Linked DNA regions of Homo sapiens: regions 1, 2 and 4 are each linked to region 3. Evidence: fine-mapped expression QTL. A gene starts in region 3. Each other region holds a variant in brackets. All regions are shown on one strand. Distances are between the middles of the regions.

Region 1 (7,368 bases), 55 kb before region 3:
TTCTAGAAAAATCTTGAGAAAGGGATGTGGGTAGCTAAGGGACTCCATGAAGTTTCTAAGACAAAAGAGACAGGAAGGTTCAACAAACAGGAGGCGCCCCAGCTCATGGCTCCAAGTAGCAAGCACTGACAACAGCCCTGATTTCTGAGCATGAGTCTGACCAGTCAGCATTCAGTGTGGACACCACAGAATCTCATTTAGCCCCATGCCAGGAGGTGCCATCAGGGGGCGGATGTACCTGTCAGGCCGGCCGTCCCCTGGGACACAGGCCCTTCCTCCTGTGCAGGTGACAGACAAAGGCCTGGAGGCTTGGAGATGACCGCCCTCCCCAGGACACCCCTCTGGCCACAGCACACCTGGAGCCTACGTCCTCGGGGTACGGCCATGTGGTCTGAGCCTTCGGGCGCTCCCCTGCCCAGCCATCCCCTTTCTCCAGCCATCACCGTGTTATTAAGCCTCATCTATAACATGGGCTTAATAACTGCCTTCCTGCCACAGTGTGGCTGAGAACCAGGGAGGAATGTGTGGAAACCGTCTGCAGCATCGCAGCCTTGCCCCACCAAGCCGGTCCCATCAGCCCCTCAGGGAGCTCGGCCGCTCGGCCCGAGACCCAGCCCCTCCTCCGTGCACTCAGCTCAGCCAGCAGAGCCTGGCGCATAGGGGGTGCAAGATTCTCACAACAGACAAGAGACTGAGGTCAAAACCACAAACCCAACACACAGTGATTTGGGGCTACCAGGACACCGCCATGTCCAGGGCTTTGACCATAGTCAGTCACGAGCCCCCTTCTTTCTGCCCACCAAGACGTCCTGCCCCCGAAAGGCCCACCGGTGAGGCTCCCTGCTCCTCCAGCTCCCACCTCAACCCGCCAAGTGGACAGAGGTGCCCACCGCTCTCCCTCTCCTTGAGGCATGACTGCAGAGGCTGGCTGCTGCCAGCTGGTGGTTATGTGATATTTATCAGGGGATCAATGTGCTGCTTTCCAGGTCAGGCCGACGGGCTGAGCTCTCAGTTACCAGGCCCAGTGCGCTGTTGTCTTTAAAGACTGAAGAATGAAGAACCTTCACGGTAATGGCCACGGCTGCACTTTCACGCTGATGGTTAAACATCTCCTCTGTGTTTTGCCACCTTATGTAATGTGCGGGATACAGATGCCATATTTAAGGATATTTCTGTTTTTACTTGGTGTGTGTTCACTATACCCCAAATGGAAGCAGCAACTACACTGTCTGGTGTGAGGCTGACATTCTCAGCATCTTCCTGGAGGCTGGGACGAGCACATCAGATGAGAGACCCCCGCGGCACCCCTCCCAAGTCAGCCTGCAGCTCACCGGCCTGATGCTGCTCTCCTGCCCGCCGCTGGGGAGACACAGAACTGGGCTCCCTACCTTTTCAGAGGACAGGGACCCAGCTCTGTCTGGAACAAAACAAAAAACTGCAGCCTGAGGGAACCATTTTTGTTAACTGGATTTTCTGGTACCTCTGGGGTCAGTTCTTTCCTGGAAAGGGCAGGAGGCGGCCACGCCCCCAGGGCCTGACCACGACACAGAGAGGCCACGTGGACGGGCTCTGCTCCCATGAGCATCAGGTCCCGTGCAGATGGGCTCCTCGGCATTAAGAACACAGAAGCCCTCGCACCGCAGAACTCTGCTGATCGAACAGGCATGCGCAGTGATGGTATACGAGGGAGCACAGCAGCGCTCAGGCTAAGTCAGATCCCGACTGCTGAGCAACTGGGCCTCCAGGTGGGCCTCCGAGCTCCAGGAAAAAACGGCAGCTCAGGAGCGAAAAAGCTGGATTCGGACCCCAGATCAGATCTGAGGCAGACTCCTGAGCTCCTCGGAACCATGATGCTGACAAAGCTCTAACCCCTCAGCAAAGCCACGGGGAACTCAATGATGGCTCCCAGAGACCCTAATTCATCCTGCAGTCACGGGGACCCCACCATGGTGGAACCTCACAGAGACTCTGCCCCGACCCACAGTCACGGGGACCCCAGCCTGGTGGAACCTCACAGAGACTCTGCCCCGACCCACAGTCACGGGGACCCCACCATGGTGGAACCTCACAGAGACTCTGCCCCGACCCACAGTCACGGGGACCCCACCATGATGAAACCTCACAGAGACTCTGCCCCGACCCACAGTCACGGGGACCGCATGATGGGGAAATCTCACAGGGACTCTGCCCCGACCCACAGTCACGGGGACCCCACCATGATGAAACCTCACGGAGACTCTGCCCCGACCCACAGTCACGGGGACCCCATGACGGGGAAATCTCACAGGGACTCTGCCCCGACCCACAGTCACGGGGACCCCACAATGGGGAAACCTCACAGGGACTCTGCCCCGACCCACAGTCACGGGGACCCCACCATGATGAAACCTCACAGAGACTCTGCCCCGACCCACAGTCACGGGGACCCCATGACAGGGAAATCTCACAGGGACTCTGCCTCATCCCATAGTTGCAGGGACCCCACCCTGGTGAAATCTCACAGGGACTCTGCCCCGACCCACAGTCACGGGGACCCCATGACAGGGAAATCTCACAGGGACTCTGCCTCATCCCATAGTTGCAGGGACCCCACAATGGGGAAACCTCACAGGGACTCTGCCCCGACCCACAGTCACGGGGACCCCACCATGATGAAACCTCCCAGAGACTCTGCCCCAACCCACAGTCACGGGGACCCCACGATGATGAAACCTCACAGAGACTCTGCCCCGACCCACAGTCACGGGGACCCCACCATGATGAAACCTCACAGAGACTCTGCCCCGACCCACAGTCACGGGGACCCCACCATGATGAAACCTCACAGAGACTCTGCCCCGACCCACAGTCACGGGGACCCCACCATGACGAAACCTCACAGAGACTCTGCCCCGACCCACAGTCACGGGGACCCCACCATGATGAAACCTCACGGAGACTCTGCCCTGACCCACAGTCACGGGGACCCCATGACGGGGAAATCTCACAGGGACTCTGCCCCGACCCACAGTCACGGGGACCCCACAATGGGGAAACCTCACAGGGACTCTGCCCTGACCCACAGTCACGGGGACCGCATGATGGGGAAATCTCACAGGGACTCTGCCTCATCCCATAGTTGCAGGGACCCCACCCTGGTGAAATCTCACAGGGACTCTGCCCCGACCCACAGTCACGGGGACCCCACCATGATGAAACCTCACAGAGATTCTGCCCCAACCCACAGTCACGGGGACCCCACCATGATGAAACCTCACAGAGACTCTGCCCTGACCCACAGTCACGGGGACCGCATGATGGGGAAATCTCACAGGGACTCTGCCCCGACCCACAGTCACGGGGACCCCATGACAGGGAAATCTCACAGGGACTCTGCCTCATCCCATAGTTGCAGGGACCCCACCCTGGTGAAATCTCACAGGGACTCTGCCCCAAACCACAATGTCTGCCGGGCTCTGGGTGCACGTACCTGGGGATGCTGGTGAGGTAGGTCATGACATTCTGGAACTCCTTGTCCGGAATCTCGCTGAAGGCCGGGTAGTCAGGGAAGGTGATAACCGGGCTTCCGTCCTGCCCCCGCCCACCTGGGGAGAGACCAGAGGCAGACCCTTAGCCGAGGGCTCCATGCCCCCGGGGGTTCCACAGATGTCGGCCCGTTTTCATCAGCACCCAGTATTTCAGTTAAAACTGAGGCATGTTCTTCATCGTTGCATAATTTTTATTTGAAAGAAATGTGTGCTGCTTGAAGAAAATATTTGGAAAGTACACAAAAGTGATGTGAATTTAGACAATCACTCGTTATTTTGGCCACCATGGGACAGCTACCGTGACAATTCAACATGCTTCTTTCCAAGCCTTTTTCTATGGGCTTTTTTAACCTTGTTGAGGTGATACTGCATAGAGAAGCTTGTCTCCTGCCTCCTTCCTGACACTGAGAACAAACCGCTTCCATGCTTTTAAACAATGTAACCATTATTTTAAATATTGCATAATATTCCATATATGCATGTGCACTAATAACCTGCCTAACTGTACTGTTTGTGGGTATCGTCTAGCTTCTCCGACATTGGCGCCTTTTAAGCAATTCAATTCCAAAGAGCTCCATTCGAACACTGACTTTGGAGTCACACAGGCTGGGCTCCAGGTCTGCCTGCTGGAGCCGGCCACTGACCCTGCCACACTGCCTTGGCCGGAC[G/A]GAGTCCATTTCCCTCCCCCGAGCCTGGGTCTGGCCTTGCGATCTGTTTTGCCCACAGGACTCAGCGGAAGTGAGCTTGGGACTCAGAACACTGCAGCTGCCCTCTCATGCCCTGTAGTCATTGGGCAGGTGGTCCCACGACCCTGCATCCACCTGCTCTGAGGAGGCCAGTACCCAGGGTTGAGGGTGGACTTTGTGAAAGGGCAGGGAGGTGGAGGTGCGGGACTGCAGCCCCCAGGACCTTCCAGCCCAGCCCCCATGAGGACACAGCTGAGCAGAGGACACAGTCAGTGCCCCGTGCGTGGAGTGAAGAACCACCTGGCTGAGCCCTTTTGGAACTTCTGAGCCACTAAATGAAGAATAAATCTGTAAAATAGGGCTTTTCAAGCTAACTAAGTTTAGGGTAGCTTTTTATGGAGAACAGATAATGGTGGGTTCGCCGCCCCTCATCCACGTCCTCACTGAGAAGACCCAGGGTGCACACAGCCTCCGACAACTGCAGCTTTGTCTCGTAACAGCGACAGTCCCCCGCCGCCTTGCGCCCCCCACAGCCACTGTCTCCAGCTTCCGGAACTTCTGCTTCTGGGTCTTGGCCAAGCCCAGCCACGCCAGGCAGGGCGGCTTTACCATCCAGTGATCCCGGGACGCTGGGCCCCCGAGGCTCCCTGTGGGCGTCTCCTCAGTACAGGGCTCCGTGGCCTCCTCCCGAGTCCTTGTCGGCACCCCTCAATGGGACATGACTCATTATCTGATACAATTGTTCTCACTTCGGCCAGGACGTCACACAAGCATATCTTTTCTCCCTCGCTCCTTCCTAACCTCCTTTGAGGGCTCATGCCTTGAGCCCATCCTGGCTGCCGAGTCTCTTAGAGGGCTGAGCCGAGGGGCGTCCACACACCGTGACGGCCCCCCTTCACCTGGGACAGCTCAGTCCCCGCAATGCTGCATTCTAAGGAAGCCCCCGAAGGGGAAGGCGGCTGCAGGGTCTGGCTTCATTGTGCTCTGATGACTTCTATCCTCCGAACTCTCCCAGCCCTCGAGGGCTCTTGACCTCTGCCCCCGTCTCTGGTGGCACATAATGCCCCATGCAGTGCTCAATAGAACGTGCCTGTCACTCACTCACAAACCTTTCATCATTGTTAATTCGCACTTCCTCTCGGAAAATTCCTCAGATCCCAATGATAAGAGGCCCTGGAGTGAACACTGCAGCCCTGTGTCCTCCTGTGCGAGTACGACAAGCCTCCCCTCAGCCGCCGCCGCGGTGGGGGCTCAAAGCCCCCTGGGATGTGGCTCACGCACGTCTCAGCTTCACGCAGCACCTACCACAATGATCAGGAACTCGTGGCAACTTTTCAGTCGCCATTAAAGGTAAGAGTGTTCTGCCGGGACAAGCCGAGGCAAGCGGCACGCCCCAGCTACGAGGTGGATTGTGGAAACGGCCGCAGCCTGCGCCTGCCTTTCCTTTCCCTGAAACGGGGCCTGGGGGGAACGTTCAGGGGCCAGAAGCTTCCAGCACCGCCCAGAAGCCTATGTGTGTGGAGTGACGCCGACGGCAGCTGGGGGCGGACCCTGCCTGTGTGTGAGACCCCCTGCGTCCCTGTGCAAATGGGCATGGGCCACGGCATGAGGACCCCTGGCCGGCGGGGGTGGGTGGGAGGGAGAAGCTGCTCCTTGGGGTACACTGGCTGTGGAGGGCCCAGCTAGGAAGAGGAGCGGATGCAACAAGATCCCCTCATGCCCAAACGTGGAGGCAGCCTGGGAGCTTGGAGTGGACGGTGGACACAACGTGGAGGCAGCCTGGGAGCTTGGAGTGGATGGTGGACACAGAGGTGGAGAGTGGCTCCCTCTCAGCACTGGCTGGCCCACCCACAGTGTGGAGGTGGCATCTGGGAGCTGCTGCCTCACTGGAACCACAGAGACCGGGGACCCCCAGAGGCCAGCCTGAGCCACAGGGTCGAGGGTGCAGTCAGCAGGGCAGCCTTGGGGCAGGAGCTAGCCACAGGAAGGCCTGGAGCCTCCAGCTGCCCAGGGGAGAGGATGGGGGCCAGGTGACCCGGAGCTGAAATCGCACGGGGGCCTGGCCTGGGCCGCACAGCCTCGTTCAGTTGGTAGCTGGTGCTGGTCTCAGGCTGCTGCTACCCTGGGTATCTCTGAACTCTCTGTGCTCCACCACAGCCTCAATGCAAAGCAAAGACCCTGTTCTTTCTTCCCAAGTCAGGAGTGGAAATCCCAGTCTGTCCACTGAGACTGAAAAGCAGGCGCCAAAGCTCCCAGTACCTGCAGGTTATGAGGCAGCAAAACACCGCTGGACGCGGAGCTGGGGGCACAGCCCCTCTCTGGAGAAACCCTCCCCACCAAGGTGGGCAGTGCCAGGACCCGGGGCCAATGGCACCAAGAACAGGCTCTACTTCTGTGTCTACACCCGGCCTAGTAACTGGAGGCGGACTGAACGCCGCAGAGGACAGAGGGCTCCGAAGCTCCTCTGTGGTTCAGAACAGCACCCTGTCCACACAGCACCAGGGGCAGCCTCCGGTCCCCACCCACGTCCAAAAACCACTGTCCTGGCTGAGACCTGTCACACCTGCATGTGAACTCTCGCACCCAAGCAACTGGGCCTACATCCACTCGCTAGGGGCAGAAGGCAGATGCAACTCCCTCTCATCCCCATCACCAGAAAGAAGTGTGGTTCCTACGGGATCTGCTTTAGTGTGAGATACACACTCAGTTTAATACACACACAGCTACACACAGCTACCTATACACACATACATGTACATATACACACATACAGTTACACACACAGCTACTTATAAACACACACATATGTACACAGCTATACACAGATACATAGCTGCACATACAGCTAGACACACACCTACACACACATGTATACACAGCTGCACACATATGCATGTGGATGTGTAGGTATGTATATGTACATATATGTACAAACATACACACCTATATATACACACATGGATATACACACACAGCTACACGCACATACACAGCTACCATACAGATACACAGCTACACATACACACACATACACATCTACAAGTACACACATATACACATACACAGCTACACATGCACATGCATACACACTACACATACACACACATACACACATCTACACATACACACATCTACACATACACACATATACACAC
Region 2 (7,368 bases), 120 kb before region 3:
AAGGTGCCCTCTGTTTTCTGTAAAACAGCCATTGGCCTTTGCTCATTGGAGTCACCACCTGCAGGGCTTGGGGAGTGGGTGCTGGGCAGCGCTCAGGCCACCCAGAACCACCTGGGCTCACTACCACCAACCACAGCAGAAATGACCCACGGGCAGTGGCCCGGCTTCGACGCCACACTGGCCACGGTGGAAATGACCCACAGGCAGTGGCCCGGCTTCGACACCACACTGGCCACGGTGGAAATGACCCACGGGCAGTGGCCCGGCTCTGACACCACACTGACCACGGTGGAAATGACCCACGGGCAGTGGCCCGGCTTCAACACCACACTGGCTTTCTCGAGACCCTGCAAGGCTGTACTGTCTTCATTCATGGATGACGAGACGGAAGCAGAGGCTGAGCTTGGCCAAAGTGCAGCAGAAGCGGCATTTGGCCCACAGGGCCCACCCGGCCCACCTTCTCCACCAGGGACCGGCTCTGCCGACTCCAGTTCACAAGCGGAGAGGGTTTGACAGACAAGAATAGCCTCTCCCAGGAGACTGTCAACAGGGAAATGACTCCCTTCTCCCAAGCACTCCTGGGGCCTCGAAGCAGCAAGCCGGGCGCCCACCCACTTGCAGGCAGGACAGTCAGTAACGCCGGGCCAGCTCCCTGCCTCTGAACTCATGCCCAGGGTGGCCACAGCTTCTGCCTGGTTCTGTGAGGCTCGCTGTGTCATGTGAGGAGGCTGTGGAGGCGGGCGGAATGGGAAGGCTGGTTCTGCTTACACCCCTGGGAACCTTTGCAAATTTTTGAAAACTCAAGATTGCAAACATGAGCCCCGTCCCTGCACTTGAAGGTCCTCAACAGGCCAGGGGAGGTCTCTGGGCTTCACAGGGCAGTTTTCACCCTGAGAATATAAGGGAGGCAGGAAACGAGAAGGGCCAGGTTCCACAGGGAGCTCAGCCTCGTCGGCCCGGGAAAGGAGGGTCCGGGTCGGACAGGGAGCTCGGCCTCATTGGCCCCGGGAAAGGAGGGTCCGGGTCGGCCCTGCCAGTTGCTATGCTCTGTGTTCCCAGCAGGAAGTGTCGGGGCAAACTGTGCCACAGGGAAGGGCAGGGAACAGGGTGCCCTATAGCCGACAGCAGCCACTGGGCAGTGAGACCCCACCCAGCTCCACCCAGCACGGCCAGGTGACCAGCGCAGCAGCCGTGGCCAGCAGCCACCGACGGGGTGGGCAGTTCCGCAGGCTCCAGATAGACCTGCTGTGAGGAGTTGGCTGAGAGGCGTGCTGTCCTCGAGGACCTGTCACCAGAGCATCACACATTGAACACAACCGCGTGTCTGCCTCCGCAGCATAAAGACCCACGAGAGCATCCCCCTTAGGTGGCCTTGACGGCCACCTGACAGCCAGCTGGGCCGCGCTTCCTGCCAACGCAGAGTGGGTGCCGTGCCCGAGGGTGCCACTCTACCTCGCACACCAAAGGGAGTCGGGTCGCTCTTTACTTCATGCCGCTTGGCTTTTTTGTCAGGACTGGTAGGAGAAGCTGCAAGAGGAGGAGGAGGCAGAAATACAACCGGAGAGAGAGTGTGAAGGACGGAGGGAGGCGGCGAGGAGGCTGACCCGCGCTCGTGCTGGAAGGGGACACCGACGTTGTGGCCCCTTTCCACCGATGAAAAAGGAGCTTCTGTGAGCAAAACACAGGGAGCCGAGGGGCCGCGCAGTGAAGGAGGGGCCGGGAGGGCATGGGAGTGGGGGCTGCGGCACTCAGAGGCGTCCTTTCGGGGCCCGTCTCTAGGGACGTTTTCTTAGTTCTGCGCTAGCAGAGTTTGCAGCACCAGAATCTGTTGTTTGTTTGTTTGTTTCAAGTCTCAGGCCAACTTAAAAGCATTTTATAAATTGGAAAACACTCCTACTTCTCTGGAAAGAGCCCTTGTCCACGCTGGCCTTCAGGGCTTCCCAGAAGAGCCGCCTGCACGCCAGGGCCGGCTTCCAGGGCCTCCTGGGCCCATTTCCCCGCCATGTATTTCCCATCATGGAGCTCTCGCAGGTGAGCAGGGCATTAGACGTCTCCGTCTCAAGGGTCCCATCAGCCCTGTTCACTAGTGGATGCCCCAGAAGATGGCTGAGCGGCCTCTGCCACCAGGCGGAGCAGAGACACGCAGCCAGCAAGGTCAGCACCCTGCAGGGAACTCACCTGAGAAGGCGGGAGAAGGCGGGGGTGGGGGGCAGGGAGAGGAAGGAGGGGGCCTGGAAAGCCAAGGACAGCTCCGTTTCTGAGCAAGCCTCCATTTGAAAAGCTCGCCTTCATTTTCCCGAAGGAAAGCCACCTCTAAATAACTCTGGTGTCTGTGCGCGAGACACAGCATCAGGGAACACGTGATTGGGTGGAAAGAAACGCTTTTGCGTGGCCGCCCTTGTGACGAAGGAGGCACGAATGGTCACACACGATGCATGACAGACGCCACCACGGTGAGGGTGGGTTTGGGGCAGGCACTACTTTTACCTTTCTGACCTTTGAGGTTAGCAAAACCCTGCAGGGTAAAGCGCTTTCTGGAAAGCGCAGAGCTTTCTGAGGCAGAGCTAGTGACCGTGTCATCTATGAAGGAAGAGAAAGAAACTATGCAGAGGGCATCGCAACCCGATGCGGAGGCGGGTCCGGCTGTCGCAGGGAGGGCCCAAGGCGGCTCCGGGTTGCACGCTCGGCCGAGGCTCCTTCTGGGGCTGGCCTTGCTGATGCAGGGGTGCAGAGCAATGGAGAGGGAGGGGCTCTTCTGTGGGGTCCTAGGGCTCTGTTAAGAGGGGAGCAAGGGGCCCTGAATGCTCTGCAAAGCTTCTTCACACTGCAGGAAGCGCAGGTTTCTCGGATGCAGTGAGCACTCCGTGAGCAGCTCCGTGTGAGGCCTCCGTGTGAGGCCCGGTCCCTGCACATACCCACCTTTGCCCTTTTCGGGGGGCTTTGTCAGTGGCGCTGAGCTGACGTATCCCTCCAGGCTTAGGGGGTCTGTTTTCCTTTCTTCCAGCTTCTTGATGTTCCTTGAGTTTCCTCTTGAGGGACTGATGACATCAGACAAATCAAAAAGGAAATAGTGTGTTGCCTGGTTAGTCTTTCAGAACGCCCTGAGGACCTGAGGCATTCAGATATCTCTGAGCTCCCGGCCTGATCCTAAAGCAGCATCTCCTGCACGTGTTTCTAAGTTAAACCCGGACGGACTGGATGAGAGCAGACGCCCACCCTCCTGCTTCTGAGGGGCCACACACTTCTAAGTTAAACCCGGACGGGCTGGATGAGAGCAGACGCCCACCCTCCTGCTTCTGAGGGGCCACACACTTCTAAGTTAAACCCAGACGGGCTGGATGAGAGCAGATGCCCACCCTCCTGCTTCTGAGGGGCCACACACTTCTAAGTTAAACCCGGACGGGCTGGATGAGAACAGACGCCCACCCTACTTGCTCTGAAGTATGAGGCTTTTTTTTTCGGGGGGCGGGGGGGGGGGCGGGGGAGTGTTTCTTTTTTAAAACTACTGTTCTACGGATTATTTATTTAGGCCATATCCTGTTCCATGAATGATTAAAGGTAGCTTATATAAGAAACAGGATAAAGTGAAAAAAATAAGTGGATGAACAAAATAAAGAAAAAACAAGGGCAGAAGAGACACGACGAAGCCACGGTCAGGGTCGGAGTCTGAAACGTGCCCACGTGTGTGCTGGGCCATCAGTGCCGGCTCCCAGCTGAGCCCCGACTGTCTGAGGAGTGCTGGGGCGTGGCTGTGATCTGGACAGGCCATGTGCGCACTGCCGTGCTGTGGAACAGCCCACCCCGGGAAGAGCTGGAGAGGGACTGGGCATTGTCGGAGGCACACATCTGTGAAGTACACCCTCTGGGACGGACCCGTCAGCACATAAACACCAGGGGCCTCAAGGAAAACCCCAATAACCACAGGGTCCCACTGACAGAGGCCGAGGACCCTGGCGTGCAAATGGCCTGCTCGGGACTGCTCCAGAAACGCAGGCCTGCGGCAGCGTGTCCATTCTCACCTGGTGCTGGTCGGGGCCGGCAGGGGCAGGCTCTGTGACTGCTCCAGCGCCCGGTGCTGGCTGGCTTCTGCGAGGAGGGAGCAGACAAACCACGTGAACGAGCGTCTTTACTTCAACGCCGAGGCACCTTGCGCATGGGGGGACTGTGCGGTTGCTCTGAACATAGGTAAAAATGCACCTGGAGCGGAAGCTACGGGAAACGATCGCTTGAAGACAGCCTCACCTCTACAAGCCTGCAGCTGGCTGGTCAGCACTTTCCGAATTTCATTCACCCACGCGGCTTTAATCTCAGGAGTTGGCGCCTGTTTCCCCAAAAGAAACGCCAGGAGGTGAGTACTCAGGCCCCCGAGGAAACACGCTTTGGTTTCACTCTCGGAACATCCAAAGATAATCTTAGGAGTCAAAGGTCAGGTGGCTGCGTGTGAGGGGAGAGGAGGAAAGCACTGTGGGTGGCCCCGCATTGCGGGACCCTCTGTGCCCCATGCACGGGACTGACTGAAGAACTGTGCCTGGCACCCAGGGCACGGCACCCTCCCCACCGTGAGAATCGGCCCTGCGTGCCAGATGCACACTTGCACCGTCCAGGGACACATGAGCTCCCCTGGGGAGGGAGAGCCCGTTTCCTCGCAGCACCCCGTCTGATGTGTACTTTTCCCCACATTTCATTCTGGGTCCAGCTCAGGGTGAAGACAGCCCAGGGCAGCATCCTGAAGTGTACAGCGGCTGCTCCTGGGCTCGATGCAACTTCATGGCAGATCCTTGCACTGGTTCCCATGAGAAACCATTCGTGGCAATGTGTAAGAGGCCAGGGGTAGGGTGGGTGGCCCACCTGGACGATGTAGACCTCCTCGCGCGCGTTGTACCAGATCTCGAACTTCTTAGCATCTCCCTTCACGTTCTCCGTAATGCCAACGGCAGCCATCTGCGAGCAGAGAGTGGAGATGGGGTTCGCGTGCACAGTGAACCCACTGCCTTGTTTTTAAAAGGTGTTGGTGCAGGCACGAAATGATGGAAATACTTTGGGGGTGAGGGCTAAGAATGGCAGAATACCCCACCCCTACACCTAAGGCTGAGAGCTGGGTGTCAGCGTG[G/T]CCACCTCAGACCGAGTTACAGACTTCCCCCGTCGGGGTCTGTGGCCAGGAGCGTGCTGCTGCAGACCCGGCCTCACTTACGTTTAAGGACTGCTTGTAGCTGTAGGAGGGAGCTTTCTCATACCCCTCCCCATTCTCCTCCCTCTTCTTGCAGAAGAGCACTGCCTTCTCGTGCAGGAACAGGTGCCGCTGCATGGGCTTGAACCTGGCCAGCTCCTTCACCTTGGTGTGGCCCCTCTTGTGGTCGGTCCAGACGCTGAACGAGCCCTGCATCAGCAGCTTGCCCAGGTCGCCGAGATTCCCCTAAATGTGCGACAGCAGGGCTGTGTTCAGGACGGGATGGGCCTGGGGCCATGGACGCGCATCGCTGAGTGAAAGCAGCCACTCTGCAAAGCCCACCCACGGTGGGATTCCAGCTGCAGGGCGTCCCAGGAAAGGCAAGCTCGTGGAGACTGACAGGTCAGCAGGTGCCAGGGGCTGGGGGAGGAGGGATGGACTGGCGGGGCACATGGGCTTCTAGGACAGTGAAGCTGCTCTGTGTGATGCTCTAGCGCTGGGTGTAGGATGTTACACGCCTGTCCAAACCGCAGAATGCACAGCACCCAGAGTGAGCTCCAAGGGGAACGGCCCTCAGTCACTAATCAGCATCAGCGCTAGTTCACCATGTGTGGCAGGTGTGGCACCCATGCTAAATGTCAACACTAGGGGAAGCCTCAGGGCCTCTGATTTATACTCAATTATCTCACAAACCAAAAATTGCTGCAATAAATCAACTCTATTAGTTAAAAAAAAAACACCTGAGAATGAGTGCTGGGTGGACATAAAGACGGACAAAAGATGAATAAGCTGTGACCTGATGTGGGGCTCTACGGGGAAAGTGACATCTGCCTTCTGGGGCCACTTGCTCTAAGTCACCAGCCTGCAAATCGCAGCCCAGAAAACAGAAGTCACGTCTGCTCCGAGCCACGCCTCCTCCCCAGGAGAAGACAAGGAGTGAGGAGGTCTGAGCTGCGTTCCTGCTGGAGATGCGTGCCCTCCAAGCAAGGGACGCTTCCTGATTTTCTCCACGTCCCAGAGAGCCCAGTGGGGTCTGTGGACCCGGCTGTGGGGTCTGTGGACCCGGCTGTGGGGCCTGGGAGTGGGCTTATCTAGGGACCACCCCAGACCTCCTGCCCAGAACCTGCACATTCACACCAAAGCGAGGGGCGTGTGCAGGGAGGCCGCCAAGTTGCTGGGCTGGTGTATTCCACGGAGGCGGCGGGGAAGACCGGGCATCTGGGCGCCTTACGTCATAGCCGGTGATAGCGATGAGGTGCATGGAGTCGTTCACGGCCTTCAGGATGCCCAGGATGGAGCTCAGCGCCTCCTGCAGGTCCTCAGCCCCCTCGCAGTTCCTGCTGTATTTCAGCATTTCCTGAGGGGCATGGGGTGAGGCAACCGCGTCGGGACACGGAGAGCCCTGGCTCCCCTGGAACAGACCCCTCAGGAGCTTGGCACGAGGTAGGGATGCTGCTCACCCTCCCCTGGTCTGTGGGGAGCTGCCCTGCCTGCCCTCCTGCAGCTGGGACAGACTGAGTGGTGCTGCAGATGGGGCAGCACCCCTGCCAGGTGCAGACCCTTGGCACCTGCTCCCCGGGGAGCTCCCTCCTGCCACCCGGATGCCAGGTGCAAACCCCTCGCACCTGCTCCCCGGGGAGCTCCCTCCTGCCACCCGGATGCCAGGTGCAAACCCCTCGCACCTGCTCCCCGGGGAGCTCCCTCCTGCCACCCTGATGCCAGGTGCAAACCCCTCGCACCTGCTCCCCGGGGAGCTCCCTCCTGCCACCCTGATGCCAGGTGCAAACCCCTCGCACCTGCTCCCCGGGGAGCTCCCTCCTGCCACCCTGATGCCAGGTGCAAACCCCTCGCACCTGCTCCCTGGGGAGTTTCCTCTCGCCACCCTAACCCTGGCCAAAGGCATGGAGTTGCAGTTTCCTGCCTGAAGGTTAGAGGGACCCACATGGCAAACTCATAGCTGGAATCCCCAGTCTAGGCCGCCCCACGTCCCTGCTGTGTGCCAGATAATCCGGGCACGGCTCCACCCTGGAGGGACGGGTCAGCACATCACACAGAATCCCATGTGGGCTGGGCTGTGTGCCAACCCATGGGGACGGGGACTCGTCTGCTCACCTGCGTCCTCAGACCCCTAACAGTGGCGCACAGTAGGACCTCGAAAGGCATCCCAGCCTCAGCACAGGCTCGGAAGAGGTGCCCTTGGC
Region 3 (7,368 bases):
TCATCCATCCATCCACCTTCCATCCATCCATCCACTCCTCCACTCCATGCATCCACTCATCTATGCATCCATCCCTCCCTCCCTCCATCCATCCACCCACCCATTCATCTATCCAGTCATCCAGTCATCCATCCATCCATACACCCATCCACCTACCCCTCCATCTACCTTACATACATATATCCACTCATCCATCTATCTACCAACTCATTCATCCATCCATCCATCCACTCATCCGTCCAAGCATCCACTCATCCATCCATCTACCCATTCATCATCCTCCATTTATCTATTTATCCATCCATCCACCCACACATCCATCCATCCACTCACACATCCATCCATCCATCATCATCCATCCATCCATCCACCCACACACCCACTCATCCACCCTTACATTCATCCACCCACCCATCCATCCACCCACTTATCCACTATCTACTAACTCATTTATCCATCCATCCATCCATCCATCCATCCATCCACCCACTTACACATCCATCCATCCATCATCATCCATCCATCCATCCATCCACCCACCCACACATCCATTCATCCACCCCTACATTCATCCACCCACCCATCCATCCACCCACCCACCCATCTACCCATTCATCCATCCATCCACTCATTTATCCATGCATTATCCATCTATCATCATCTGTCTATGACAAGAGTTAGTATTAGGTCAACTAATGGAAAAGGTGGGGCTAGATTTAAAGATTCTTCTACCACAGTAGTTCCCCAAGTTTGATTCCTGAAGAACTTCATCAAGAACTTAAGAAATGTCAATTATCAGACCCTACCCCAGACTTCCTGAATCAGAAACTCTGAGGGTGGGCCCAGCAGCCTGTGCTTTAACAAGCCCCCAAGGTGACGCATGTACATGCTGTAGTTGGAGGACCACTGTTCTGTTTCATCGAATGCTTAAATCAACTAGATCCATAGCATTGCTCCCTCGAATGTCTTCTACCTTTTCACCAATGACTAAAATTCCAAAGAGAAAACCAAAACAGACGAAAATGAGCCCTATCACATAGAAGGGGGGCCAGGGGGAAGTTGCCACTGGAAAGTGCCCCTGGCCTTGTTACTGAAGATCAGGTTCAGAAAAGTATATAAAATGTCAATTCTCAAGGTCAAAGGCTACAGATTCACAGACCATATGGACAGCACACATTATCCTCCTTTACATGCAGATTAGCCTAGCTAATGAAGGTTCTAGGTGACAGAAGAAATGCATAAATCTGAAATTAAAACACAGCAGCATGTCCTGGACAGCAGCAAAGATAAAATGCCTGTGGGTTGGGGGTGAATCTACAGAGGGTGAAGCTCTGCACAGCTGAATGAGGCAGCTGCTCTAAGGCCAGCCGCTGTACGCAATCCCTCAGCTGTGACCTAGCCCCGCCACTGCCCTGAGGACCTACACCAGCCGCCACATCAGTGTCCTGTTGCCATCAGCTTTTACCTGGCACGGATCCTAGCATGACCCCAGAAGGAGAAGCAGCTCCATGACCTCCCGCTGAAGAGTGTTTGGCTGCAGGTGGGGAACTCTCCTGAGGAAGTGCTTGGAATTTAAACCCGAGGTGGGGATCAGGTTTACCTTGACCTTCACCCCTACCAGAGAATGTGCACCACATACCCGTACACTCTGTGGTAGCATCATGTCAATACTGCATCATAAACCCCCTCATGATGGTTTTACAGCCTTCAACCTAATAACTTGCCTCCGCTGAGCAGTACCTCACACAGCGTGAGCAGAAAATGGGTTTGTGCTGAAGGAAGAGGCCAGTGTTAATGGGTGGTAAGTGGAGTATGATGCAGGGTCACCTCCCCTAACTAAACGCTACAGGGTGCTCATAACCGAGGATATCTGGTAAGCTGGACTTGAAAGTCCTGGTGAAGCATGCAATTATCGGTAATGCAGATGTGTGGGAGGACGCACATCTCACTGCCTGTTCCAGATGAGACGATGGCCCACACCGAGCGCCCGGCTCGCACGACATTCAGTGAGCAGACAGTGTCACTGCTGCTCTTCTGAGATAGCCTTTTTCCAATTAAAAATGCGCACATGTCTCTTGGAGCTCATGAAGAAACCCCAATCCCTAAAAACCTGGGGAATGACATCAGCCTCTGGAGCGGTTCCCACTCTGTGACTCTGACACCGAACGGCACGCAGAGGCATGCAGAGCAAGGGGGGCTTTCTCCTCCACCCCCACAGCCGATCGGAAGCCTCCCTGTGAACCTGGCATCCACGCAGCCCTTCACCATACTCAAACCCTGCAAACCCTGCACGGAAAAGCTCCACTCAAGCTTCAGAAAAAGAGCTGATTCTCTAAGAATCAGGGAGCAGACGGCATGAAAATGGTTTTGTTTTCTTTCGACCCACATACAATAAACCCAGCAGCTTTGATCATAAAAGCCCCCATTAAAAACATCTTGATTAGACCATCCCATACGATGGTGCTTATGCTGATTTAATCACTGGTTCACTCTCAGAATCCATCGGGGTGGGCAGAGAAAGAGAACCACACCCAAACCAAGCAACTGACATTTTAATCTCCCAGGCAAGTACTAGTTAGACAACTAGTAATGGCATATATGACATAACATATGGCAACATCAGGCAAAACACTTGGCAACTTACTTTTAATGATATATCATTATTTCCTCTTCATTTCAAGGAAAACGAGTTAAGGATGCCTCTCCCTTCTGCATAACACAGCCTGAGAACTCAGATGCGACCGCCTGAAAGCCACGGCCAGATGCAAGCTGTCAGCCCAGTCTCTGCTTACACCTAAAAGAATCGATCTGAACTACTCTTCAAAGCTTATTTGAAGTAATATTTCGATTAATACTGAAAATGAACGTCCAGTCCACTCTTTACCCATACCGTCTCAAACATCTGTCTTAGGTTTAAATTGCATTTAATGAAGAAAAGAACCACCTGATTAGTCCAGGTTTTTTCATCCTCAAAACGAGCTTCCAGGTAGCTTCACCATCCCTACCCCTGGCTCTGAAACCCCAAGCTCTGAAAGCCCTTGGCTCAGATCATTCTCCATTCGCAATGCATTCTCCATTGCGAGGGCTGCGGACAGGCAGGTTGATGGGCAGACTTCAGACACACAAATGGCTCCGCATGCAGACCCAGCAACCCTGAGAGAGCCAGTGTCACCAACGTGCAGTCATTTTGACTATCCCGGGCAGCATACGATCGCCGACAGCCTCTGAAAACACACCAGCTGCCAACCAGTGCCCCCCATGTCACAGCTACCACGGCTAGAAAGGAACACGAGGGCGGCTTACAAAAATCAGACGCATTTCCCCACATTTCAGCCCATGATGTCAAGCTTAAGCACAGATCACTGACGGCCAGCAGCTCCTCCTACCCGTGTGCTTGGAAACCGCATTTAATCTCTGCACCATTTCTTCCAAGGCCATCTCTTCAGTCCTCAGCCAAAACCTCATCCTCCGACACAACAAAAATGATCCTGGCAGATCCGCTTCCTCCGCACGGGGGGCGCCTGCGGGTGGGGCCGTGCGAGTGCGGAGGGGGCGCGGCGGAGGCGGGGAGGGGGCCACGGCAGCGCTTTCAGCCTCCAGCCGCCGCCTCCCTGCCCAGGATTGGTTCCGCGCCACCGGGAGGGGGGCGCGCGCTGCGCCGCGGGGGGCGGGGGGCGGCTCGGCGGAAGCGGAAGCGGCGCGCGCCCGCCCCGGTGTGTCACCACCGCGGGTCACCTGGGAGTCCTGTGAGTGCACCGCCGGGGTCACCTGGGAGCCCCGCGTGTCACCGCCGCGGTCGTCGGGGAGCCCCGGGGCTCACCAACGAGGTCACCTGGGAGCCCCGCGGGTCACCGCCGCGGTCACCTGGAAGTGTCACCTGTGTCACTAGGTCACCTAGTGTATCACACAGGTCACCTAGAAATTCGTGTCACCGCCAAGGTCACCTAGAAATTCGTGTCACCGCCGAGGTCCCCTGGGAGCCCCGCGGGTGCCGCACAAGTGCCCCCGCCCTTCCCCCCGGTTCCGGGTCTCCACGCCCTCCTGGTTTGCGGGCAGCCGCGAAGCCGCGAGTGGACCGAGCGAGTGCAGCTGCCTCCGCGGGGCCGCGCCTGGCCGCCGCCTCCCTTTACCTCCGGCCGCCCCGTGGCAGGTGTAGAAGCTGCAGAGGCCGCAGCAGCCCAGCGCGCCCCTTCCGTGTGGCCGCATGCCACCCGCGCCGCGCCCAGGTAAGCAGGTCCGTGGGTCGCTGGGTCCATGCGTGGGTCCGTGGCTGGCCGGGGATGGACCAGCCCCTCCCCGCAGGGGCATCGCCTGCCCAAGGACGCAGGACCCAGTGAGGGAAGCGCGCGCTGCAGGCACGGGGCTCTCCACCCTCGCCATGGTTGGCACCAAGCCACACTGTGCACTCGACACACGCAGCGTCCTGGCTGCCACCTGCAGATTCCAGCTCGTGTCTATGCAGGGCCATGGCCGCCATCACAGGGCCATATGCAAGAAACTCTCTGAGCTCTCCTCGCCCAAAACCGCAGCTATCCTTTTGTGGTTTGGTATTATAGGTAACATGCCCTTCCTTAAAGAAACAGTATTTCAGGCCTGTAGTCCCAGCTACTCCGGAGGCCGAGGCAGAAGCTGAGGCAGAAGCAGGAGGATCATTTGAGCCCAGAAGTTTGAGCCTGGGCAATGTAGCAAGACCCCCCCCCCCACCTCACTCCCCAATCAGTTAAAAGAGAGAGAGAGAGAGAGAGAATTCCAGCAGGAAGAAGTACACATTTCCACGAATGGTTTGGGAATTCAAGCATCATATGGCTGAGGTTTGAACTACAGCTCATGCCAATAACATGTGCACATGCGCCAGCATTCCAGCGTCCAACAGAGCATGCGTGCACCATTCCAGCATCCGGCAACAATGCACCAGCATTCCAGCGTCCAACAGAGCATCCGTGTACCATTCCGGCATTTGGCAACAATGCACCAGCATTCCAGAGTCCAACAGGGCATGCGTGCACCATTCCAGCATCCGGCAACAATGCACCAGCATTCCAGCGTCCAACAGAGCGTGCGTGCACCATTCCAGCATCCGGCAACAATGCACCAGCATTCCAGCGTCCAAAAGAGCATCCGGCAACATCCCGGTGTCCAGTGGCACATGTGCACCTGGACGTTCCAGTGTGGTGAGCTTTCAGGCACGGAGCAAGGCCAAAGGGATAAAAAGATGAAGGTGACGCAGTACTCCCCCTTATAGTGCCTACAGGCCTTATAGGCCAGACAGATCTGGAAATAAATAATTCATAATAAAAAATAATTACAGAATAAGAGGCATAATAACCAGATAGAAAGTATTGAATAAATCTGTAAGAAATGGCTGCTTTGTTTTTGTTTTTGTTTAACATGAGAAACGTATTGAGTATCAGCAGTTTCACTTGGTTCTACAGAATCTCTTTGGAGACCAGTGAAAGGAGAACTCTGGAAAGGCCTCAGAGTGGATGGGAGCCTCTCCCTCTGTGGACAAGCGTTCCCTGGGCTGCCCAGGGTGCCTACGGCGGCACAATTGCTACCTCCTGTCTACACATGGTCTGCAAAAAGTGCCCTCAAATGGGTCTGCTCCTCTCATTCCCTGTCAGTTCAGGGAACCTTCACCACTCCCCATCCCCCACCGCCCCCCCACCCCAACCCTGCCCCTCCAGCTTCAGGGAAAGCCTGTCATCAGGCAGAAGGGTCCTGAAATGCAGGCCCTGCCCTTTCCACTAGTCTAAGGCACAACACCCTCCCTGGTCCTCAGCCCACACGGCCCTAGGCCACACTCCCTCTGAGCACCTGCCCTCTTCTCCCGGCCGCTCTCCTGGCATGCAGGTGCCCTCCAGCCTGCCCAGCCTTGGGCTGCGTCAGGATCTACCGAGGACTTGTTAAGCTCACACAGCTGGGCTCTGATGGCTCCTTGCTGATCCAGGAGGTCTGGGATGGGGCCCGAGGATGTGCATTTCTAGCAAAATTTCCTGGGATGTTGAATGTGCTGGTCCACACTTTGAGAAACACTGCTGAAATCTGTTGCATCTTAAAAGCAAGATGAAAGGAAAGGGCCACACCCTCTGGCCTGTCCCGCTTCTCCGATCTCCCTCTTCACCCCTTGGGCATCTCCACACATGCTATTGGCTTCTTTCCTCAACCCTGTGCCATCCACTCTGTCCCCTGGCCAATATCCTCTGGCTGGCACCATGTCATGTTGGGGCACCAGGGTGGAGACCCTTGGTCTCTGTGGTCATTGGCTTTATTACTTGTCAACTTGGCTGGGCCACCGTGCCCAGATATTGGGTCAAATGCTAGGTTAGATGTCTCTGTGAAGGTATGTTTAGATGAGATTGACACTTATATCAGTAGACTTTGAGTAAGGTGTGTGACATAACGTGGGTGGGCCTCACCCAATCTATCAAGGGGCTTGAGAGAAAAAGACAGAGGTTCCCTGAGGAAGAGGGAGCTCTGCTCCCAGACAGCCTGGACTGCAACCCAACTCTCCCCAGTCCCCAGCTGCCCCTGGACCTTCCAACACCCACAATTTCAGGAGCTGATTTGTTCAGCTAAGTCTCTCTCTAGCTCTGTCTAGTCTTTATTCTGCCTTAAATTATAGCACAGATGATGCCATCTTTCCATAAACATCATTTAATACTTGCCTAAAGAACGATTGTCACCATTACACCTGGCATTAGGGAGCACTAGGCGCTCCAGGTACCTGCCAGAGTGCTCCCCATGCTGTAAACTATTGGTCTTTACAGAGAGCTGGGAGAAGGCACTGTTTTTCGCGTTTTACAGAATATGCAGAGAGGTTCAGCGACTTGCCCCAGGCCACACAGAGGCACAAAGATGCAGACCTGTGGTGTCTGCATCGGGGACGCCTGTAGTGTCGTGAGGGGAATGGCATCCACAGAGTTCCCGACAGGTAGACCCAGGACACTTAGGTAAGGTCCCAAGCCGTGTGTCCCAAGGGATGGGCTTCTTTCCATCCCTGGCTCGGCCTCTCTCCCGGGAACCAGAGGCGCCCCAGGAGGGAGGCTGAAGGTAAAGCGACACCTGGATACCAAACATCCTCATGGCGACCTTTCTGGATGATCAGCCACAAAGCGGAGGTGAGAAATGGGAGCTGGAGCAGGCAGGGCCAGGCTCCCAGAGCCAACCCCGAGGCTAGGGGAGCAGGGCTATGGAGTGGCACAGTGGCCCCGGCCACAGAAGGGCAGGCATAGGTGTTTCCTGCACAGCCTCACTCCATGTCTTGGGAGGGGTATCAGAGAGGGTAGAGACTGGAAAAGGACTGTGAGGAAATTCACAAGCTCATTGTGACTGGGAGAGCCCCGCGGGACAACACCCAGCATGTCAGGG
Region 4 (7,368 bases), 110 kb before region 3:
CAAAGGAGGTTCTGGGGGTACAGAAGGTTCTGGGGTTCAGGAGGTTCTGGGGTACAGGAGGTCCTGGGGTACAGGAGGTTCTGGGGGTTCAGGACGTTTTCTGGGGTTCAGGAGGTTTTCTGGGGTTCAGGAGGTTCTGGGGGTTCAGGAGGTTCTAGGGGTACAGGAGCATCATGGTATCTCAGCCAAATTGAAAACATCGTATTTTGTGATTTCAGTTGGTTAGAATAGGAACTTGCAGTAGAATCTGAAGTCATTATTCAGTACTTTTAAGAAGTTGTGACAAAATACACGTCAAAACACCACCTACCCTCTCCAGAAAGCATCTTCCAACCAGTTCTGGGCAGTCAGTGTAGTTTTCCAGCTCCCTGAGGAATATCCTAGACAAAGAAGGTTTTTAAGTAGTATGAAAGACAGGCCGAGTCACGTGGACCAGTGACAAGTGGATGGACGTCATTTTTCAGAAGCCTGTTACGCCTTGCTCTGGGCAATCTGCCCCGCATGACTTGGAGACGCCGCAGCCACGCCTGTCCTGAGCACCAAGCTCTCAGGCGCCAGCAGGTGCAGCCCCAGGCTGAGTCTCTTTATATTTCTGGCCTTGGCTGCACACAGAAGTTGGAGGGAGCTGCTTTTCCCTCAGCACACACACGGCTCACAGGGCCGCAGGCAAAGACAGAGATGGGACCTTTCAGGGCCCTGGAGGCGCCACCCCCATAACTGGCCGTGGGTCTGTGGGTTCTCTGCAGACACACCCTGAGCCCTGGCCCTAGGCAGCGCCGCCCCCAGGCTCCTGGGCTGTTTTCTGTTGCATCTGTCCCCTGGAGGAAGTCCGGCTGGAGGGGAAAACCGTCTGGGGGATGGATTTGGGGCATGAGCACAACAGCTGAAAGCTGTGGGGACCCCTGCGTGCAGGACTGGCTGAGACCCTGGGGGCCATGAGGACAGATACTAAGGGACACTAAGGTTCTGCCCAAGCTCCGTGGACGTGGAAGGCTCCTTGGTGGTCAACTGCAGACCTGCTGCCTCCTTGTAAGTGGCAGGTGAGGTGATGAGAGGGCAAGAAACAGGTGTCAGAACAACATCCCAAGCACTGGCGATTCCCATGGCCAGTGGGGCACGCTGGTCCCCAAGCACATGGCCGCATGGGAGCCACTCACATGGGTTCCTTCCAGGACACGCAGCGGGGGCTGTCCACTGCAGCCTCCCTGGCATTCTGCACTGCGTGTGCACCCTACACCTTCCCATGAGCTCCCCAAAACTGTGTTAAAGCAGCCAAACAGCTCAGAGGAGTGGAGGACAAGAGGCCGGACAGGCCACCTGCACTGGAGAGGCCACGGGTCGCTCGGGGGACAAGCAGCCCCCATGATGGGTAAGGAACGCCTAGTTTGCCGTCCTTTTCAAGAGCTTGGGAACAAAACAGGCCTTGCTATGTGGTATGGCCTTCGGTGACCCCCTAAAGGGCCGAATACACACCTGGGAGGGGGTTCCGGCTTCCACCTGCCCAGCAGGATGAGGAGGGGATGAGGGGCAGGCGGGTCCCATTTCCTGCACCACAAAACAGGGCGCACTCGGGCTCAGAGCCCTCTCCTCACGGCTGGCGGCTCACTTACAACTTGGCTGCCTAGACACAGGCCACCAGGTACGGTGCCACGTGGGCGCTCAGAGATGGCCCCATGTACCCACACTCAAGCCTGTGCCTCTGTGAGTCCACCCCTTGGGCGCCCCTCCCTAGCCAGGCATGGCCTGGCCTCCACCCCCATTCCAGCCCCCTGAAGCCAGCACCATTAGCTGCAAGAGATCACGGGTGCGTGCCTGTGTCGGGGGGAAGGGCCCACCTGTTGTGGAAGTGATAGATTTCCTCCATGTTTCCAAACAAAACATCCTTCTTGTTGTGAAGGCCTGTTGACAGGAGGTGAGCCATCAGTGGGTTATCCATCTCCGCGGCGTAGCCCTGCAGGGAGAGCGCAGAGGTCGGCGGGGGTCCTGGGCCTGATGCTGTGGGGGGGCAGGTGGGCCAGGGATGCCGGCTCATCTGTGGGCCAGGCCAGCCCTTCATCTTTATTCTCGGGTGATTTCTAAGTTACCGGGACAGGCATCCATCAAAGCAAAAGCATTATGAACAGCACCAATTTGGGGGAATGGGGTGGAGGTTCTACCCTTCTCCCTTTTAACCTTTTATGATTCAGGTGTAACTGAAACAGAGGGCACAAATCTTATGTCTACACTCGGGTGACCTGCTCACACTCAGTAAATCAGACACTCGACTACACTCAGGTGACCACCACCTGTGCACACTCGGTGACTCAGACACCCGTCTACATTTGGGTGACCACCACCTGTGCACACTCGCTGTCTACACTCAGGTGGTCACCACCTGTGCACACTCGCTGTCTACACTCAGGTGATCACATGTGCACACTCGCTGTCTACACTCAGGTGACCACATGTGCACACTCAGTGAATCAGACACCTGTCAACACTCAGTTGACCACCACCTGTGCACACTCGGTGAATCAGACACCCGTCTACACTTGGGTGACCACCACCTCTGAACACTCGGTGATTCGGACACCCGTCTACACTCAAGTGACCACCACCTGTGCACACTCGCTGTCTACACTCAGGTGATCACTACCTGTGCACACTGGGTGAATGAGATGCCTGTCTATACTCAGGTGACCACCACTCACATCAAGCTCACCCAGGCAACAGCCCACTGCCAAGGTCACCTCTAATCTGCCTCCCACCTCCGACGAGTTTTGCTTGCCCTGGAGTGCCCCGTGCCGGGAATCGCAGGCACCCTGTGGCCTGTGTTGGTGACGATGTGTGTGTGGTTTGTGCATCTGTTGTGTGTCAGCTCCTCTTTCTTATCACTACACTTGTCCCCTGTACGGACCCCCCTGAGCTGCCTGGTCTGTGTCTTGTTGATAGGCCCCCAGGGGCTCCCCGTCTGGGGCC[C/T]GACCAGGCTGCTGTGGGCGCTCTCTCACATGCATTTGGTGGACAGCAGGCTGCTCCGAGCAGCAGTTGTCAGAGGAAGCCCCACCAGCTGGCCCAGGGGAGTCCCCGTGGCAGTCGGCCCTCCCCGAGTCCAGCCTCACCTCCAGGACGCACAGCAGCTCCTCCACGTAGGCCCGTTCTGTGTCCAGGAGCTCGCTCATCACGTGCCTGGTGGCAGGTCATGTGGAGAGCAAAAAAGGTTAGCACTGGGAGAGCAGGAATGGTCTGCTCCACAGTCTCACAGGTGCCACCTAGAATGATGGCCTGCCCAGCAGGAGGGGACTGGCGGCGACCCAAAGCCCACAGGCTGGACGCTCCTCGGGGTTCCCCTCCCAGCTCGCGGCCTCAGACCCTGCAGACGGCGGCTGAAGCCTCCCTGGTTCCCAGACTGGCCGGCAGTGTCTTGCCCCTGGCCCGGCACACACCGCCTGGTAGGAGGGATTCCCAGACTCGCCTCCTGGGCTTTTGGGTCCCACCTGTGCAAAATGAGCTGAGTTCCTCACGCTCATGGGCAAGTCATCCTACTCCTAGGACCCATCCCTAGAATCCACCCGAGTCTCTTCTGCCAAGAAGACGCCCGCCTGCTGCCCGGCCTCCCTGAGCCTTCCTCGTGGTGGGTATCTGTGTGGCCCCTCGTGGCCAGGGCGGGGGTCTGGCATCGCCGGAGCTGCCCCCTGCCCACGCCCTCACACACAGCAGGTGGGCAGTGGTGGTCCGGGGAGTGACCCTGCACCCACCACACTGGATCCAGAAGGGGAGGGTGCACAAGCTGGCTGCGCAGGTCTTGCTGTGGGTGTGAGCACCTTTCAGCAGCCTACGGCCCTGCCTGCTTATGTGATGCACAGAAACTGGAGCCAGGGGGCTGGTCCTGGGTTGAGGTTGTTCAGCAAGCTTGTTCTAAGACAGCTGTCGGCCCGCAGAGGCCCCGGACTCGGCACAGGGGAGAGGACTGGGGAGCAAGAGGGCTCTGGACTCCCTCTCACAACCCAGGAACTGCCAGCCGAGGGCCACTCCTTCTGCGTCTCAGGGCCGAGCACTTGCTGCTCCTCCCTGCGGACGCCCCTCTGCCTAGACCCTCCTCCGTATGGACACTCCTCTGCCTGGACCCTCCTCCGTACAGACACTCCTCTGCCTGGACCCTCCTCCATACGAACACTCTCCTGCCTGGACCCTCCTCTGTGCGGATGCCCCCCTGCCTGGACCCTCTTCCGTATGGACTCTCCTCTGCCTGGACCCTCCTCCATTCAGACGTTCCTCTGCCTGGACTCTCCTCGGTATGGACACTCCTCTGCCTGGACTCTCCTCCATACGAACACTCTCCTGCCTGGACCCTCCTCTGTGCGGATGCCCCCCTGCCTGGACCCTCTTCCGTATGGACTCTCCTCTGCCTGGACCCTCCTCCATTCAGACGTTCCTCTGCCTGGACTCTCCTCGGTATGGACACTCCTCTGCCTGGACTCTCCTCCATACGAACACTCCCCTGCCTGGACCCTCCTCTGTGCGGATGCCCCTCTGCCTGGACCCTCTTCCGTATGGACTCTCCTCTGCCTGGACCCTCCTCCATTCAGACATTCCTCTGCCTGGACCCTCCTCCGTGCAGACGCCCCTCTGCTTGGACCCTCCTCCGTGTGGACAATCCTCTGCCTGGACGCTTCTTGGCAAGCCCCTCTTCCTTCCCATCCTGTTTCACCAGCTTCCATCAGAAGCCGGAAGTGACAGACTCAGCTTTCACACCAAGCTCAGTTTCCTGTAATTCCCAATTTTGCGCCGTCTCCCAACCCTGCAGGGTCACACTGGCGCTGCCTGCGGACACCTGCTTGTCAACACATCAGGAAGAGCCTTTTCTTCTTTCCTGATTTTGGAGTTTTGATGGTGAAAGGGGGAGACGTGGTTCCAAGCGTCTCTTGCAAACATATTCAGTGCAAATACTAAAAACGGAGACAGTGCAAAGTGTGAAGCCAGTGGCGGGTGCCTGGTCGGTGTGTGGCCTCCTCCTCTTCCTCGAGGGCCTCTGGGAGGGAGCCGCGTGTGCCTCATGGGTGTTTGGCTCCTTCCCAGTTTTGCTCTGGGGACCTGCATTCCCTGGCCCTGCACCAGTGAGGTCTTTCTTTCTTAAAGGTGAAGGAGGAAAGAGAACTGCTTTTGTTTGCACAACACTCCCTGAGTTTGAGGGTCCAGGAATCCCAGGGGAAAAGGAGGGCTGGAGACGATGCCCTCCCACACACCAGCTGCCTGGCACCACTGCCTGCCACACTGAGCCCTGAGCAGCTGGTGACTGCTGCTGCAGCTGGTGCTGGTTGGGGCCTTTGAGTGGTGTCTCCTGTGAATGGCAGTGGCGGGTGGAGGCTCTTGCTGGGGCGAAGATGCCCCTTCACTGTTGCATTCAGCCATCGCCCTCTCTTCCCTCCTGAATCCCGAGTGGTGTGTGTGCGGCGTGTGTGTGCTTCACGCGGTGGGGACCAGGACACACGCTCGAGCCACGGCAGGCCCTCTGGGTATCGGTTGGTGCAAAAGTAAGAACCACAATGACTTCTGCACCAGCCTTCTATCTGTGAGGCATCTGCTCGAGTGCCTGACGGCATCTGGTGGTTCAGGCTGCGGTCGGAGGGCCCCTGTGAGGACAGAAGGGCAGCGCACCCACCTGCGCAGGATGGCCAGGCTTTCCTCCTCCTCCCCCGCTGAGCCGCGGCCCTGCCGGCTCTCACTCATCTCACTCTGGGGAGAAAAACAGCGTCAGGTCTGAAAGGCGGGACGGAACCTCAAGGGCCAACTCTCAAGGCCAGAGCCCACCAGTTCCCGTATGGGGACAGGGCTGAATTCCCACGATGGGGAGCTGGCCAGGTAGCTGGGCAGTGCCCGGGAGGGGGGGCCACACGGAGAACCAGGCCCAGCGTGAACCAAGGAGGGGGGTGTGGATGGCGGGGTTGTCTTGGGCAAGCCTCACCTTGGCCCTCCGGTAGGGCCCTCTCCGGAGCGCACCGCCCTCGGAGCTGGAGTTCTCAGAGCCTCGCCGAATGCCTGTTGGGAAGAAGGGGAGCGGGGCATGAAGTCCCCTCTGACCCTCTGGAGAGGGGAAGTGCACCCAGCGGGAAAAGGCCCCGAGGAGAGGGTAGGACTCGGCCTCTGAGGCCACAGGTGGTGGCGTGGGCAGGACTTGGCCTCTGAGGCCACAGGGGGTGGCATGGGCAGGACTTGGCCTCTGGGGCCACAGGTGGTGGCGTGGGCAGGACTTGGCCTCTGAGGCCACAGGTGGTGGCGTGGGCAGGACTTGGCCTCTGAGGCCACAGGTGGTGGCGTGGGCAGGACTTGGCCTTTGAGGCCACAGGTGGTGGTGCGGGAAGGGGGAGGACGGTGGGGCCTCACTGCCCTGAGTCACCCCACGTTCCCACAGCCCACGGGGACACAGCGCCTGTGGGCTCCGACCTGGGAGAGCTCCCAACAGGCAGAAAATAAGGTCGCCTGGGACCCAGCACAGGAAGGCAAGAGCCTGGCCCCCGGGGCCCCTGAGATTGACAGCTGACTTTCGCCAAAGCTGGGGCAGCAGCTCGCCTGGTGGGTTCGTGTGTGAGAAACCAGCAAGGATGGGAAGAGGGTTCGTTTTGAGACACAGAGGTGGCGGGAAAGTCTCTGGGAAATGGCGCCGTGCCTGGCTCGGCATAGAGGGCGGGTTTGGGACCAGCAATGCGCGCCGGACTGAGGTGCGCGGACGTGGCTCTTCAGGGCTCCTGGAGCCCAGGGTCTGGGCCGTGTGTGAGGAATGTTGTTTGGCAATAGCACCGGGAAAGGACAGACCGTGGAGAGGCTGGAGCTGGGAAGGCCGGAGATGGTTCCTCTGTGGGAGCTCTGTGTTTCCAGTTTTGGGCCACGTGGGCTTCACTGAGACCACTGAACCCTGCCAGCCTCATGGAAAAGCAGCCACAACGATGCCTACAAGATGTGCGTGGCACAGGATGGGCGTGGCCGGGTCCTGACAAAACTCCATTTATAAACATGGGTGAGGGGTGGCGGGAACCGGCCCTCAGGCCCTGAACTGGGGCCCGGAGGTGGAAGGGGAGGAGGCGTGTGGAGACAGTTTTCGCAGGTGGCTGCCTCAGATGTACCAAGCTCTCAACGCCCGGGGCTCCCCCGAGGGTCCCACAGCACCCGGGGCACCGGGCGGCCACACAGACCTGGGGAGGGGCAGGGCGACTTTGCCAGTGCCTCGGGTCTGGGGGCCACCGGCTGCACGGGCCGCGTCTGCCTGGCCGCCAGCTTCTTCAGGCTGGCCTGCCTGCGGTGGAACACCTCCTCCATGCTTGCCTGCTTCTGGAAGACCTTTCGCACGTGCTCCTGAAACCGCATGCTCAGTAAGGTGCCTTGCACATGTTGGTG

Direction of the effects. Positions count from the first base shown, and alleles are read on the strand shown. Sizes are in standard deviations (SD) of each study's normalised expression. Not every link is listed here.
As copies of G replace A in region 1, the expression in liver of the gene that starts at base 3,631 in region 3 goes down (moderate effect, 0.63 SD a copy in GTEx).
In carriers of allele T in region 4, the expression in ovary of the gene that starts at base 3,631 in region 3 tends to be higher than with C alone (moderate effect, 0.44 SD a copy in GTEx).

Evidence for each region. PIP is the estimated chance that this variant, and not a neighbour inherited with it, causes the effect. A credible set is the group of variants that fine-mapping cannot tell apart.
Region 1: its variant is the best candidate, but not a certain one, in a credible set for the expression of MCF2L in liver (GTEx, PIP 0.89).
Region 2: its variant is the best candidate, but not a certain one, in a credible set for the expression of MCF2L in lung (TOPMed, PIP 0.85).
Region 4: its variant is the best candidate, but not a certain one, in a credible set for the expression of MCF2L in ovary (GTEx, PIP 0.69).

The regions. Positions count from the first base shown.
Region 1 is chr13:113,020,860-113,028,227 of GRCh38, reverse strand. It overlaps MCF2L (MCF.2 cell line derived transforming sequence like), which reads right to left. Exons shown (of 30, transcript NM_001112732.3): 3 at 3,470-3,584. Among named protein-coding and RNA genes, the nearest start is that of MCF2L, 55 kb to the right of the region's middle. RefSeq lists enhancers at 1-421, 422-923, 4,945-5,580, 5,581-6,215. The variant G/A (reference allele first, on the strand shown) is at 4,196.
Region 2 is chr13:113,085,280-113,092,647 of GRCh38, reverse strand. MCF2L (MCF.2 cell line derived transforming sequence like) reads right to left here. Exons shown (of 30, transcript NM_001112732.3): 21 at 6,399-6,524; 22 at 5,192-5,413; 23 at 4,849-4,941; 24 at 4,243-4,321; 25 at 4,020-4,086; 26 at 2,920-3,038. Among named protein-coding and RNA genes, the nearest start is that of F7, 17 kb to the left of the region's middle. RefSeq lists enhancers at 1-179, 2,262-2,767. The variant G/T (reference allele first, on the strand shown) is at 5,111.
Region 3 is chr13:112,965,477-112,972,844 of GRCh38, reverse strand. MCF2L (MCF.2 cell line derived transforming sequence like) reads right to left here and starts at 3,631. Exons shown (of 30, transcript NM_001112732.3): 1 at 3,387-3,631. The coding sequence starts at 3,465. MCF2L-AS1 (MCF2L antisense RNA 1) reads left to right here and starts at 4,207. Exons shown (of 1, transcript NR_034002.1): 1 at 4,207-5,361. RefSeq lists a silencer at 3,696-3,755 and an enhancer at 3,957-4,476.
Region 4 is chr13:113,077,010-113,084,377 of GRCh38, reverse strand. It overlaps MCF2L (MCF.2 cell line derived transforming sequence like), which reads right to left. Exons shown (of 30, transcript NM_001112732.3): 13 at 7,167-7,326; 14 at 5,942-6,015; 15 at 5,639-5,712; 16 at 3,099-3,165; 17 at 1,836-1,951; 18 at 311-380. Among named protein-coding and RNA genes, the nearest start is that of F7, 25 kb to the left of the region's middle. The variant C/T (reference allele first, on the strand shown) is at 2,959.